3 separate regions of the Homo sapiens genome follow, and all the other regions are linked to region 2. The links come from fine-mapping of genetic effects on gene expression. A gene starts in region 2. Each other region holds a variant in brackets. All regions are shown on one strand. Distances are between the middles of the regions. Region 1 overlaps GAK (cyclin G associated kinase). Region 2 holds the start of GAK (cyclin G associated kinase). Region 3 overlaps GAK (cyclin G associated kinase).

The links. PIP is the estimated chance that this variant, and not a neighbour inherited with it, causes the effect. A credible set is the group of variants that fine-mapping cannot tell apart.
Region 1: its variant is the best candidate, but not a certain one, in a credible set for the expression of GAK in whole blood (TOPMed, PIP 0.57).
Region 3: its variant is the best candidate, but not a certain one, in a credible set for the expression of GAK in whole blood (INTERVAL, PIP 0.88).

The regions. Positions count from the first base shown.
Region 1 is chr4:888,767-892,901 of GRCh38, forward strand. GAK (cyclin G associated kinase) reads right to left here. Exons shown (of 28, transcript NM_005255.4): 10 at 1,766-1,856; 11 at 81-204. Among named protein-coding and RNA genes, the nearest start is that of GAK, 41 kb to the right of the region's middle. The variant C/T (reference allele first, on the strand shown) is at 1,604.
Region 2 is chr4:930,586-934,720 of GRCh38, forward strand. It overlaps GAK (cyclin G associated kinase), which reads right to left and starts at 1,731. Exons shown (of 28, transcript NM_005255.4): 1 at 1,458-1,731. The coding sequence starts at 1,602. TMEM175 (transmembrane protein 175) reads left to right here and starts at 1,875. Exons shown (of 11, transcript NM_032326.4): 1 at 1,875-1,955. RefSeq lists a silencer at 1,517-1,836 and an enhancer at 1,997-2,316.
Region 3 is chr4:852,029-856,163 of GRCh38, forward strand. All of the region lies in intron 24 of GAK (cyclin G associated kinase), which reads right to left. Among named protein-coding and RNA genes, the nearest start is that of CPLX1, 28 kb to the left of the region's middle. The variant C/T (reference allele first, on the strand shown) is at 2,347.

The DNA.
Region 1 (4,135 bases), 42 kb before region 2:
CGCAGCCAGGAAGCAAGGGCCGGGGCTGCAGCCTGGAACGAGCGTGCGGCAGGTCCAGGGCTCTGGAGCCTCACACTCACTTAGCGACGGACTGGATGACCTTGGAGGAGGTGTCCTTGAGGTTGGTGAAGAGCCGCTCTGTCCCACCCCGCAGAATGTCCAGGAAGCCGCCATACGGCTGGTCGTACTCCGCCAGCGCCAGGCCTGCAGGGAGACACAGTCTCAGCAGGCCCCAGGTGCTCGGTCCCACCTCCCCAGGTGCGGGTTGCTGGCTGGGCCCAGGCCCCAGGCGCTCGGTCCCACCTCCCCAGGCGCTCGGTCCCACCTCCCCAGGTGCAGGTTGCTGGCTGGGCCCAGGCAGCAGGAGCAGGGAGTGGGTGGTATGGCCAGGCCCCTGACCCACACGTACCCAGCGGGAAGCCAGGCCTCAGCACTGGCAGGTCTACCCTGTCCTCAGCCTTTCCAGAGACCCAGGAAATGGTCAATCTGGGTGCGGAAGGGCTATGTGGCCGCCTCAGCACAGCTGGGGCTGGGACTCTGTCTGTGGGGATAGTCCGGCCTCACGGCCACAGCTTCAGGCCACCATGACCCTGGACGTGAAGGCAGAGTGGTGGCCCCTGGCCTGGTGGGTCCTGCGAGTGAGGTCTTCACAGGCGGCTTTGGTGGCACAAGTGGTGTTAAAAAAAAAACACCTGGCCAAAGTCCCTCATGCAGACAGGAGACCGAGGCCCAGGCAGCACCGAGCAGATGGGGGCACTGCAGAACCCAGCAGCTCGAGGACTCACCCTTCCTCCAGCCAGCAGAGACCCAGCCAGCCACTACACCTGCATGTGTGGGACCCACACTGCACGGACCGGGGTGCCCCAGACATGGAGCTGAGCTCCTCCCTGGGAAGCGGAGGTGAAGGACCCAGGTGAAACCTCCCACACCGCAGTGGGGATGCGGGGCGAGGTCGGGAGGGGTCAGCGCCATGCAGAGCTGCAGACCCAGCCGCTGCCTGTCAGGGCCATGTCCTCGACGGCTCACCCGGAACCTTCTGGAACACTCCCGGCACGGAGTTCCAAGAGCATGCAGCGTCTGTCTCCAGGGCCCTCTCCACTCCTCACCAGCTGAGGGCCCTCCAGGGACACCCAGGCCCATCACAGGTGCCCACTCCTCATGCGGCAGAAGGGGCCACCTCACACTAGCGGCAGAACTGTCTTCCCCCACCGCCCTCCACTGTCCAATGCCTGCTCCTGCCCCCTGGCCTCAGGGTCGCTACTGTAGTAAATGGTTCACCTTGCCCACAGCAGGCCTGGCCCTTCATTCCCAGCTCCTGGGAAGGAACCTGGGATGCCCCCTCCAGCCCCAAAAGGGGTGTCTGTTTCCCTGGGGCCTTGGGCTGTGCCAGACACGACAATGTGATCTATGCTGGGGTCTTGGCCACGGCGCAGGCTGCCTCCCACATAACCCCTGAGCGAGGCCGCCTGGTCACTCGGGCCCGGTCTCCTGGGCCCTGCCCTGGAGCCTCTTCCCTTGGCTGGCTTTAGTCCGAATCCTGACCCCCTCCTGAACTGCACCAAGACACCAGCTTTGCTGAGCTCTGTGAGCCCCAGGGAACTGC[C/T]GAACCTGAGGGTGTGCTCAGGGACCCTGACCTCACAGTCATCTCTGGTGGGAGAGGAGGCCCCGGGAGAGAAGGACCCCAGACTCCATCCCAATGTGCTGCGGGTGCCCGGGGTGCAGCAGGAGCGAGGGACAGGTGGCGGGCACAGGACAGGGCACTCACCTCCACTGTAGCCACTGCCAGCGGGGCCCACGGGAGGGGGTGGCCCTCGGGACAGTGTGGCGCTCCCGTAGCCTCCATTCTGCTCCAGGAGCTGTGACAATGAAAATGCAGAGGTCAGTTCTCTAAACTGACAACTCACGCCTGCCCACGTCGGGCAGAGGTACGGTATGGGTGCCCTCAGAGCCCATCCTTCTGCCCCCTGATCTATGACACAGTGCAAGGGAGGAACTTCCCACAGGCTGAAGCATCAGCTGGAACTCAACAAACGCACGCAGCCCTCATCCCCTCACCCCGCGGCCTGCCTCGCTTGGGGCTGTTGCAGGTGCTCAGCACTCCAGCCCAGCTTTTCAGACTCTTGGGCTACAGCTTCTGTTCCTTTTCCTTTTCTCTCTCTTCCCAGTCTGTCCAACCAACATTTTTTTTTTTTTTTTTGGTAGAGACAGAGTCTTGCTCTGTGACCCAGGCTGCAGTGCTGGAGGGCTGTGGCACGATCTCAGCTCACCGCAACCTCCGCCTCATGAGTTCAAGCAATTCTCCTGCCTCAGCCTCCCAGAGTAGCTGGGACTACAGGCATGCGCCACCACGCCTGGCTAATTTGTTTTGTATTTTAGTAGAGATGGGGTTTCACCACGTTGCCCAGGCTGGTCTTGAACTCCTGAGCTGAGGCAATTCGCCTGCCTCGGCTTCCCAAAGTGCTAGGATTACAGGCGTGAGCCACTGCACCCAGGCTTTTTTTCTTTTTTTTTTTTTTGAAACGGAGTCTCACTCTGTCTCCCAGGCTGGAGTGCAGTGGCATGATCTGGGCTCACTGCAGCCTCCACCTCGCATGCCCAACCATATTAAGCAGACACATGGCCTGTCTGTCCCAGGATGTTCCATCACTTCAGCTCCTGGGTTCTGGGGGCCACCCTGTGAGGCTCACTACCTCCTGGGGGCAGTATTTTATTTCATTGTGAACTCAGCTCCATCATGGACTGTGTTTTCTGGGGGAGTCGGTTGGCTTAAGCAGGGGTCTAACGTCTGTCCCCACGGGGTCCCGGCCTAGAAGCACTCAGATGAGAAGCACTGAGGACCCCGCCCCATCACTAGGGGCCTGATTCTGCCCATCTGCCCAGCGGCACCTCCTCCCGCCCCATCAAGAATCCCTCCAGCGCACTCGACAAAGCAAGAGGCCCACACCCCCCTGCGAGCCCACTGTCCTCTGTGACCTCCGGGGGAGTGGGCAGGCATTTTCTGTAAAGAGCCACCAAGCGAGGGGGACACGAGGCCCAGGCTGCTAAAGAGCAGGACGGCCCAGGAGTGATCCCTTCCTGCCGCTCTCTGACAGCCCCAGGGAAGCTTGCTGAGAGGCCACCAGTGACATCAACTCTCCCGCCTCAGAGCGCCCCACACCTCAAAATGCTTCCAGCACCCAGCACCAGGGCTCCCTCTGCTGGTGCACCCACCATGATGGCCGCCAGAGAGGGGCACCACAGCCTCTCCCCGTCTGCACTGGGCTTCCCAGCACTTCCCTGCTCCCAGGTCTCTGTACCCACGCGGCCCCCAAGGAACTGCAAACCCTCCACACAGCCCAAACCTTCCTTGTCCCACAGGGTCCTGTCCTCAGACAGGGACTCCGGGCAGCAGCTCTGACCTTCTCCCCACGCTCCACACCCACCGCCTGGGTCAGCTCCACTGCAGTGGCCCCTGGAAGTTCCGGCTTCCAGCTACCAGGGAGTGGAAACGACCCAAGGGCTGAAAAGGGGACAAAATGCAGGAGCCAAGAGTCCTGGGTCCTTGGACACAGACCCCTGCGAGATCTGCAGAGGGGCCCTGCGTGTCCTGACTGGGCCCTGAGCTGGGATGCCCAGGGGCCTCCCTGCTCCCCGTGGGTGAGGGCCGGGCCGCGTGTCTGCTCTGCCTCGAGGATCTGGTGATGGAGATGCTGCACCCTGTCCACGGCTGGGTCAGAAAAGACTCTGAGGAAAGCATCTTCCAGCCAACACGTGCTGCTCCCTCCCAGGCCTCACACTTCCACAAAGCACACGGCCCTGTGGGCCTCAGTCTCCCAGCCCCCAGGCCCTGATGCTGCCAGCAGCCACCGGTGCCTGGGAGTGGACCCTGGCCAGGCCCAGCCCTGACACAACTGCAACCAGGACGCCCAGAGCTGAGCTGAGGGTCAGAAACACAGACGCAGAGCAACTCAGGACACCCCAGGACGCCCAGAGCTGAGGGCTGGCTGACCTGGCTTGGACACCAGACCCCAGAAACAAAGACACAGGAGCAATTCATGCTGTCCTGTCAGGGGAAGAATCTAGAAAGGCGCCTGCAAACCTCAAGGAGGCCAGAGGAGCGCGTGCAGAGTGCGAAGACCTTGGCAATGGTCCCAGC
Region 2 (4,135 bases):
ACCCCTTGAGCACAAGTCTGAAGTTCCAGAAAGCAAGTCCTGTCCACAATAAACTTCTTAAAGAATGAAGATAACCACCTAGTATTTTCAGAATAAATGATTTGATCTGAGAGAAATCTTCCAACTGATGTGAAAGAATATCACACTTCAGCCCCCACTTCTGAAAGAAGAGCTTAGACTTTCTGACCAAATCATACCCAAAATCTGTTTGGTTTTGACCACAATGGAGACAAAGTGTGTGATAATGCTACAGTCAAAATGTCTCCGCAGGCCTTTTGTGATAATCAGAATTCTGGGATAGTCTCCTGTCTGGTCACAGAGCAGGCACCTGGACAGGCTAACCCTCCAGCCCTGAGAGGTACCAGGGAGCTGGTGAGGGTGAGGGCTTTTGTGTCGCTTCACTCCCTCTCCCTGTGCCAATACAGCAGAATAGAGTTACGCTTCCGCACCCAAGTCAACTGTGTTTAGCCCATAAACTTCACAGCCAGTGAAATATGACACACCTCCAGGCACCACTGGACAAAAAATGTAAGGAAAATCCACAAGAGAGAATGGGACCCACTGGCACTGGTGATCGATTCCGTGTGAACGGAGAGGACATCCAGGGAGCTAGAAATAGCATGCAGAGACAAAACTGACTCAAGACTGACTCAAGAGGACTTAAGCCGAGTGACCTGTCCACTCTGCAAGTTCTATATAGGTCACAACCACTGGCTCTGCTTCCTGTACTACACACGGAATCACACGAGTAGATGTTCACCGGGAAGAGAAACACTGAGGTGTTGAAAGACGAAGGGGGATCACGAGACACAGCCCAGTCTACCCTCGGCCAACCCCCCCACCCCCCAGGCTACAACCGCAACTACCTGCAACACGTGTGCACCCACCAACTCTCAAGTTCCCTGGACTGTAGAAGAACCAGCCCTAACCTCCAAAGTCCAGTCCTGTCCCTGCCTGCTCAATAACCCCAGATGTCCGGCAAAAGGCCAAGGCTTAAACCCACCTCCTGCACCGCTCACCTCCTGACTCCAGCTGTCGGCCTTCTAGGCACCGTCCCTCAGTCTCCGCTGTGGGTCCCCACCCAAGCTCCCTGCCTGCCACCATCCCCCACCTCACCGTAACATCTTCCCCCACCCACCCTGAGGGGGTTCCCCAAGCCCCAGGCCTTGCTCCGACTTGACCCTACTCTTATGACAAGAAAGTACCCCGACCCGGTCCCAGCCTCGCCCTCCGCAATCACCGCCAGCAGGCACTCACCTACGCCCGCGCTATGACCTTCGCCTGGCCCTGACCCACGCCCTCGGCAGAGACCCTCCCCTGGCCGACCCTGACCCACGATCCCGCTGGGACCCTCCCCAGCCCTAACCCACGCCCTTCCACTCCGGGCTGACGCTGCCCCCAGCGTCCCGGAGACAACACTCCGCGGCCGCACCCGCGCTGCCGACCCGGGGCCTCACCTTCGGCCAGGACCCGCCGCACCCGCAGCCGCAGCTCGCCCAGTTCCACCGTCTGCCCCACGAAGTCACTCTGGTCGCGGCCGGAAGCACCGCCCAGGGAGCCTGGACCCGCCAAGAAGTCGAGCGCCGACTGCAGCAGCGACATGGCGGTGGCTGCGCCGCACCCCGCGGCAGCCGGAGTGGTCGGGCTCGGGCTCCCGCTCCCTCGCCGTCCGGGTCAGCTCAGCAACCGCCGGCCCGGAGGTGCACCATCTTCCGCCTCGACGCCGTGACGTAGGCGCCCGTGAGGACGCGTCGCGTCAGGCGGCGACCCGGCCTAGCCCCGTCCCCTCCGCCGCGGCCTCACTTCCTGGCTGCGCGCGCAGGCGCGGAGGTCTGACGGAGACAGCGCGTGCGCGGCGTCGCCGGGCTTGCGATGAACTTCCGGCTGTCAAGCTCCCGGCCGGGCTGACTCAAGCGGAGGCGCGCGGAACAGTCGCCGAGGCGATTCCCGCCCAGGTAGTTCAGCGCCCCAGTCCAGCTCCCGGTACCGTTCCCCACATGGTCTGTTTTGTGGGAGGCTCCTTCTCAGGTGTCTCCGGTTTAAGCGCTTCGCCATCCTCTGGGTGGAGTCAGCCTCCCGTTTGCTGTTAGCGCCGCGTTTGCGAATGGGTTCGCGAATTTTTCTCTCAGTTGGCTAAGGAGCAAGGAGTTAGCGTGCGTTAAGCTTTCAGTAAATACTTGGTTTTCGTCTCATGGAGGTCGGAGTTTCCTGTGACGCTTAGTGAGTAAGGTTGGCAGCCCCCTCCCAGCAGCCAGGCAGGCAGTTTGCAGGGGAAACGCTGCTGCATTGCTCTGTCTTCCGAGGAGAGGGCCAGGGTCTGGCCTGGGGCAGTGACCAGTAGTGGGAGCCGTGGGCTAGAAAAACCTTCGTCCTGGGCAACCACAACACTGCAGAGACTGCCCTGTGACCCTCAAGGTTCGTTCTCACCCTGACATTTTCCAAGGCAAAAGCAAATCCTCATGAACCACTTGGAAGGGTTCGTAATGCCCAACTATTTGGAGATGAAATGGTGACTTTCCTTATAGGATAATAAGGAAATGGCTCACAGACAATGCATTTTTAGTTTTTGGCCCACACAGTATTTGGGGGTTGGGAGTGGGTAGCAGGAGGTGAATTAGTTGCTATCATTTAAAGACTGATGCCAGGCGCGGTGGCTTACACCTGTAATCCCAGTGCTTTGGGAGGCCGAGGCAGGCGGATCACCTGAGGTCAGGAGTTCCAGACCAGCCTGGTCAACATGGTGAAACCCCGTCTCTACTAAAAATACAAAAATTAGCCGAGCGTGGTGGCGGGTGCCTGTAATCCCAGCTACTCGGGAGGCTGAGGCAGGAGAATCGCTTGAACCCGGGAGGCGGGCGCCACTGTACCCTAGCCTGAGACTCCGCCTCAAAAAATAAATAATAATAATAATAATAATTGAAAGGCCTAAATGTTAAAAACCTAGTTTTCCAGCTTCTGTGGAAAAATCAAACCTGTCAATATTGGACCCAAAATGATGTGTGTTACCAATTACCTAGAGTGGTCCCTTGAGGTAAGACACAGTCATTTGCCTGACCAGATGGGCTCATGTATGTTACCTGCCTGGTTCCTATAGTCATTTAAGGTTGCAACCCCTTCAACAGAGTTATTTGTTCTCCAACTCAAAAATGGATTCTAAAGCTCACATCAGCCTCTTAGCCGTCCCAGAAGCTAACATCTGTTATCTTTATCATTAAAAGATAATAGCCTCAGCTCGTTGGAACACTTATCTATGTTATGGAATGAAGTATTGCATGAAGCCAAATGACATCTTTAAAAATATATATAACAAAAATAACAGTAGCAATAGCTTAGTTTAGGCACTGATTTATTGCTTACAACACCCTTTTCTGTAATAGTTCATTGTAGTGAAAACATCTTTGTGAAGAAAGCACAGTATAATTAACCCCCTTTATTTTGGGATGAGAAAATATGCTCAACAATGCCATTATTCGGCCAGGGCCAACAAGTGATACAACTGCAATTCAACGCAAGTCATGGCTTTTCCAGCCAGTGCGTTTGTCTGGTCGACTGTGGAATAGAAGGATAGAGAGCTCAGGAAAGAATCCCTGCTAGAGACAGATATCTGGGCATCCTCAGCATAGAGGTGGCAGTTGGCTCTAGGAGCTGAAGAGAGGACCAACAGAGATGGTGTACTAGACATAAAGAGGTTAGAATCTTCAGAGAATAGACAGTTTGTGGAGAAAGAGCAGTCAGTGAAGGAGGAAGAAAACCAAGAGAGTGTCGTAACAGAGCCAAGGAACGAGGATGTTCGGGGCAGAGAGTGCAGCTAAGAGTGTCGAATGCCACTTAAAAGTCAAGTAGAAAAAGAAATGGAAGATATGTGTTGGATTTATTCACAAGGGATCATTGGTGACCTCACCAAGAATAGCTTCATTGGAGTAATGAGGTGGAAGCTACATATTACCGTAGAGGGATGAAGAGATGATGAGGTAGAGATGGCAAGTGGAGATAACTCAAAATGTTTGTCTGTGGAAGAGAATATGAACAACTTCAGGCCAACAAATTCGGCACCCTTAGCTCCAGGGAGCTACAAGGGTGATGTAGTATTGAGATGTTTTAAGATGAGAGATTCTTGAGCAGCCTAAAGCGGATG
Region 3 (4,135 bases), 79 kb before region 2:
CTGTTTCTATAACGCAGAGCACCACGTATATTGGAAAACATGCGCTTGCAAAATAGAACACCGATCACTCGAGGCCGTCCAGAGGTGCCGGCTCCACCCACACGTGTGAAGGTCTCCAGGGGCTGGAGCACAGGCCAGGTGCTGGGGCGACGGGAACACTCTGGATGGAGGGCAGACACCAGGACAGGGCAGCTGTGGAGGCAGCACCCCACCCCCAGGAGCCAAGGCAGACCCAGGGCTTGTCCACGGGGGTTGGGGCAGTGTCCCCACGTCACCCCCAGGAGCCAAGGCAGACCCGGGGCTTGTCCACGGGGGTTGGGGCAGTGTCCCCACGTCTGTAGCGTCCTAGAGGGCCACCACCATCTGTCACGTGGCCACTGCCTCTCGCAGCACATCAAATCAGGGCTGATCCCGTAACTTTTTTTTTTTGAGACGGAATCTCGCTCTGTCACCCAGGCTGGAGTGCAGTGGTGTGATCTCAGCTCACTTCAAGCTCCACCTCCCGGATTCTCACCATTCTCCTGCCTCAGCCTCCCAAGTAGCTGGGACTACAGGCGCCCACCACCACGCACGGTTAATTTTTTTTGTATTTTTTAGTAGAGGTGGGATTTCACCATGTTAGCCAGGATGGTCTCCATCTCCTGACCTCGTGATCTGCCCACCTCGGCCTCCCAAAGTGCTGGGATTACAGGCGTGAGCCACCGTGCCTGGCCCGATCCTTTAACTTTTTATTTTGGAATAATCAGAATAGCAGGAAGCTGTAAATACCCTGAGCACCTGCGCCCAGCATCCCCCAGGGAGGGCGTCTCTCATAACCTCAGAGAAGCACTGAGCCCGGGCAGCCGCGCCACCTACAGATGCACCAGACGTGGCCAGCTGGACTCGTGTGTGTGAGTGCGGGGCCGCGCCACTGACCGCACCACGGATTCCTCTCAGCACCACAGCAATCACGACCTGAATGCTTCACTACAGTTCTGTCATCTTTTTTTTTTTTTGGAGATGGTCTCACTATGGCTGGTCTCAAACTCCTAGGCTTAAGAGACCCGCTGGCCTCACCTCCCACAGGGCTGGGATGGTAGGTGTGAGCCACCATGCCCAGACTGTCATCTTAGTTATGTTCTAGAAGGGGACCAACAGCTGCAGCCTCTGGACTGGCACTCTTCACTAGGGCTCGGGGCATCCGCCACTCCCCCTCCCTGCCAAGGGCCATCTCGTGGTGTGCAGACCACCTATTGAACCGTTCACCTGTAGGACACCTGGGTTGATGCCACTGTTTGGCTACAACAGACACGTCTCTGAACGCCTGTTACGGACTTGTGTGTGAATGAGAGTTTCCGTTTCTCTGGGATAAATGTCCCACGGTAGCTCAGTAGCTGTGTGTTTAGCTTCGTAGGAAACCGACCACCTGTTCTCCAGAGCGGCCCTGCCACTTGTCACTCCCTGGGAATGCCTGAGAGACACGGCTCAACCCTGGCAATGCATGAGACACAGCTCGCCCCCGGGGCAATGCGCGAGACACGCGGCTCGTCCCCCCGGCAAGGCGTGAGGCACGCGGCTCGTCCCCCGGCAAGTCCCCCCGGCAAGGCATGAGGCACGCGGCTCGCCCCCCGGGCAATGCGTGAGACACACGCTCCAGCCTCCTCCGTGTTCGGGCCTCCTCCGCGCTCCGGCCTCCTCCGCGCCAGCATTCGGTGATGCTGGGTGTCTCAGCCTGTGCTTCCTGGCCATCGGATGTCAATGTGCTGGAGGTCTCTTCATGTCTCTTGCCCATTTTCTTTTTTTTTTTTTGAGACAGAGTCTTGCTCTGTCGCCCAGGCTGGAGTGCAGTGGCAAGATCTCGGCTGACGCAACCTCCGCCTCCCGGGTTCCAGCGATTCTCCTGCCTCAACCTCCCGAGTAGCTGGGATTACAGGCCTGTGCCACCACGTCCAGCTAATTTTTGTATTTTTAGTAGAGACAGGGTTTCTCCATGTTGGTCAGGCTGGTCGCGAACTCCCGACCTCAGGTGATCCGCCTGCCTCAGCCTCCCAAAGTGCTGGGATTACAGGCATGAGCCACCATGCCCGGCCGTCTCTCGCCCATTTTCTTTCTTTTTTTTTTTTTTTTAATTGATCATTCTTGGGTGTTTCTCGCAGAGGGGGATTTGGCAGGGTCACAGGACAATAGTGGAGGGAAGGTCAGCAGATAAACAAGTGAACAAAGGTCTCTGGTTTTCGTAGGCAGAGGACCCTGCGCTCTCGCCCATTTTCTAACTGGATTGCTTTCAGTTTGTTTTTGACTGTATTTTTATATTCTGTAGATGAGTCCTTTGTCAAATAGGTGGTTTGGAAATATCTTCTCCCAGTC[C/T]GCAGCTCAGATGCTCAGAGCTCTGAAGTTGGGTCCACCTGTCCTCTTATGGGTGTGGTTTGGGTGGCGAGTCTACGAACTCTGCCCAGCCCCAGGCCACAAAGGTTTTCACCTAAAGGCCCTGCATTCTGATGAGCTGTTCTGTAGAACGAGGGCTTAGGGCTTTGCCTACCGCTGCCCAGGTGCTCCAGACCATCTGATGAACGGGTTTTCTGCCTCTGTCAAAGCTCCGCTGGTCTCTCTTGTGTGGCCTGAGTCCTCTCTTCTCTCCACAGACGCGTCTGTCTGCCATCGCCGCAATGTTGATTTGTGGCTTCAGAGTAAGCCTCAAAGCCAGGAACAGTGACTTCTCCCATTTCATTTTTCCATTACAAAAATATTCCAGGCATGGCTGGGTGCGGTGGCTCACGCCTGTAATCCCAGCACTTTGGGAGGCCGAGGCGGGCGGATCACGAGGTCAGGAGATCAAGACCATCCTGACTAACACGGTGAAACCCCATCTCTACTAAAAATACAAAAAATTAGCTGGGCGTGGTGGCGGGTGCCTGTAGTCCCAGCTACTCAGGAGGCTGAGGCAGGAGAATGGCGTGAACCCGGTAAGGGAACTTGCAGTGAGCCGAGATCAGGCCACTGCACTCCAGCCTGGGCGACAGAGCGAGGCTCCATCTCAAAAAAATAAACTATTCCAGGCATCTAGTCCATCTGTCTTTCAAATACACTGTACAGTAAGCTCATTTGTATCTAGGAAAATCCCTGCTGAGGCGTTGGTAGGAACTGCGTTAGGCTACAGATGCACACAGGAGAACGGCCACCTTACTCGGGAGCCTCCAGGCCGTGAGTGCAGCGTCCGTCCCTTCACTCGCATCTCCTCTGGTCTCTTTCGCCACGGTTGGTTTTGTAGTCCCACCACACAAGCCCTAGACATGTCTGGTCAGATTTATACCTAAATGTTTATTTTTTCTAAAAAAAAAAAAGGTGATTGTAAATGGTACTGTTTTAAATGTTGGCTTCCTTATATAATTGCAAGTAAACAGAAATAGGACAGATTTTTGTGTGTTGACCTGGTATCCTGCGACCTTACTGAACTCATAGTTCTAAAAGATCTTTGTAGATTGCTTCAGAGTCCCTGCGCAGACAATCGTGTCATCTGCAGACAGGAGTAATTTTATTTCTCCCTTTGTAGTGCGTGTAACTTTGATCTCCTTTTCTTGCCAAATGGCAGCAGCTGGGACTTCCGACAAGTACAAGTGGAGAAAAGACACTCCTGCCCTGTTCCTGATTTTAGGAGGATGGTTAAAAATGATATTGGCTTGGCCAGGCAGGGTGGCTCATACCTGTAATCCCAGCACTTTGGGAGGTCACTTGAGATCAGGAGTTTGAGACCAGCCTGGCCAACATGGTGAAACCATGTCTCTACTAAAAATACAAAAATTAGCTGGGCATGGTGGTGCATGCCTGTAATCCCAGCTACTCAGGAGGCTGAGGCGGGAGAATTGCTTGAAACTGGGAGGTGGAGGTTGCAGTGAGCCAAGATTATGCCACTGCACTCCAGCCAGGGCAACAGAGCAAGACTCTTGTCTCAAAACAAACAAACAAAAAAAAGATGTTGGCTGCAGGTTTCTGGAGACAGGGTCTTGCTCTGCTGCCCAGACTGGAGTGCAGTGATGCAATAATAGCTCAGGCCAGCCTTGACCTCCTGGGCTCAAGCGATCCAAGTGATCTTCCCACCTCAGCTTGCTGAGTAGCTGGGACCACACCTGCTCACCACAGCTGCTCACCACACCTGCTC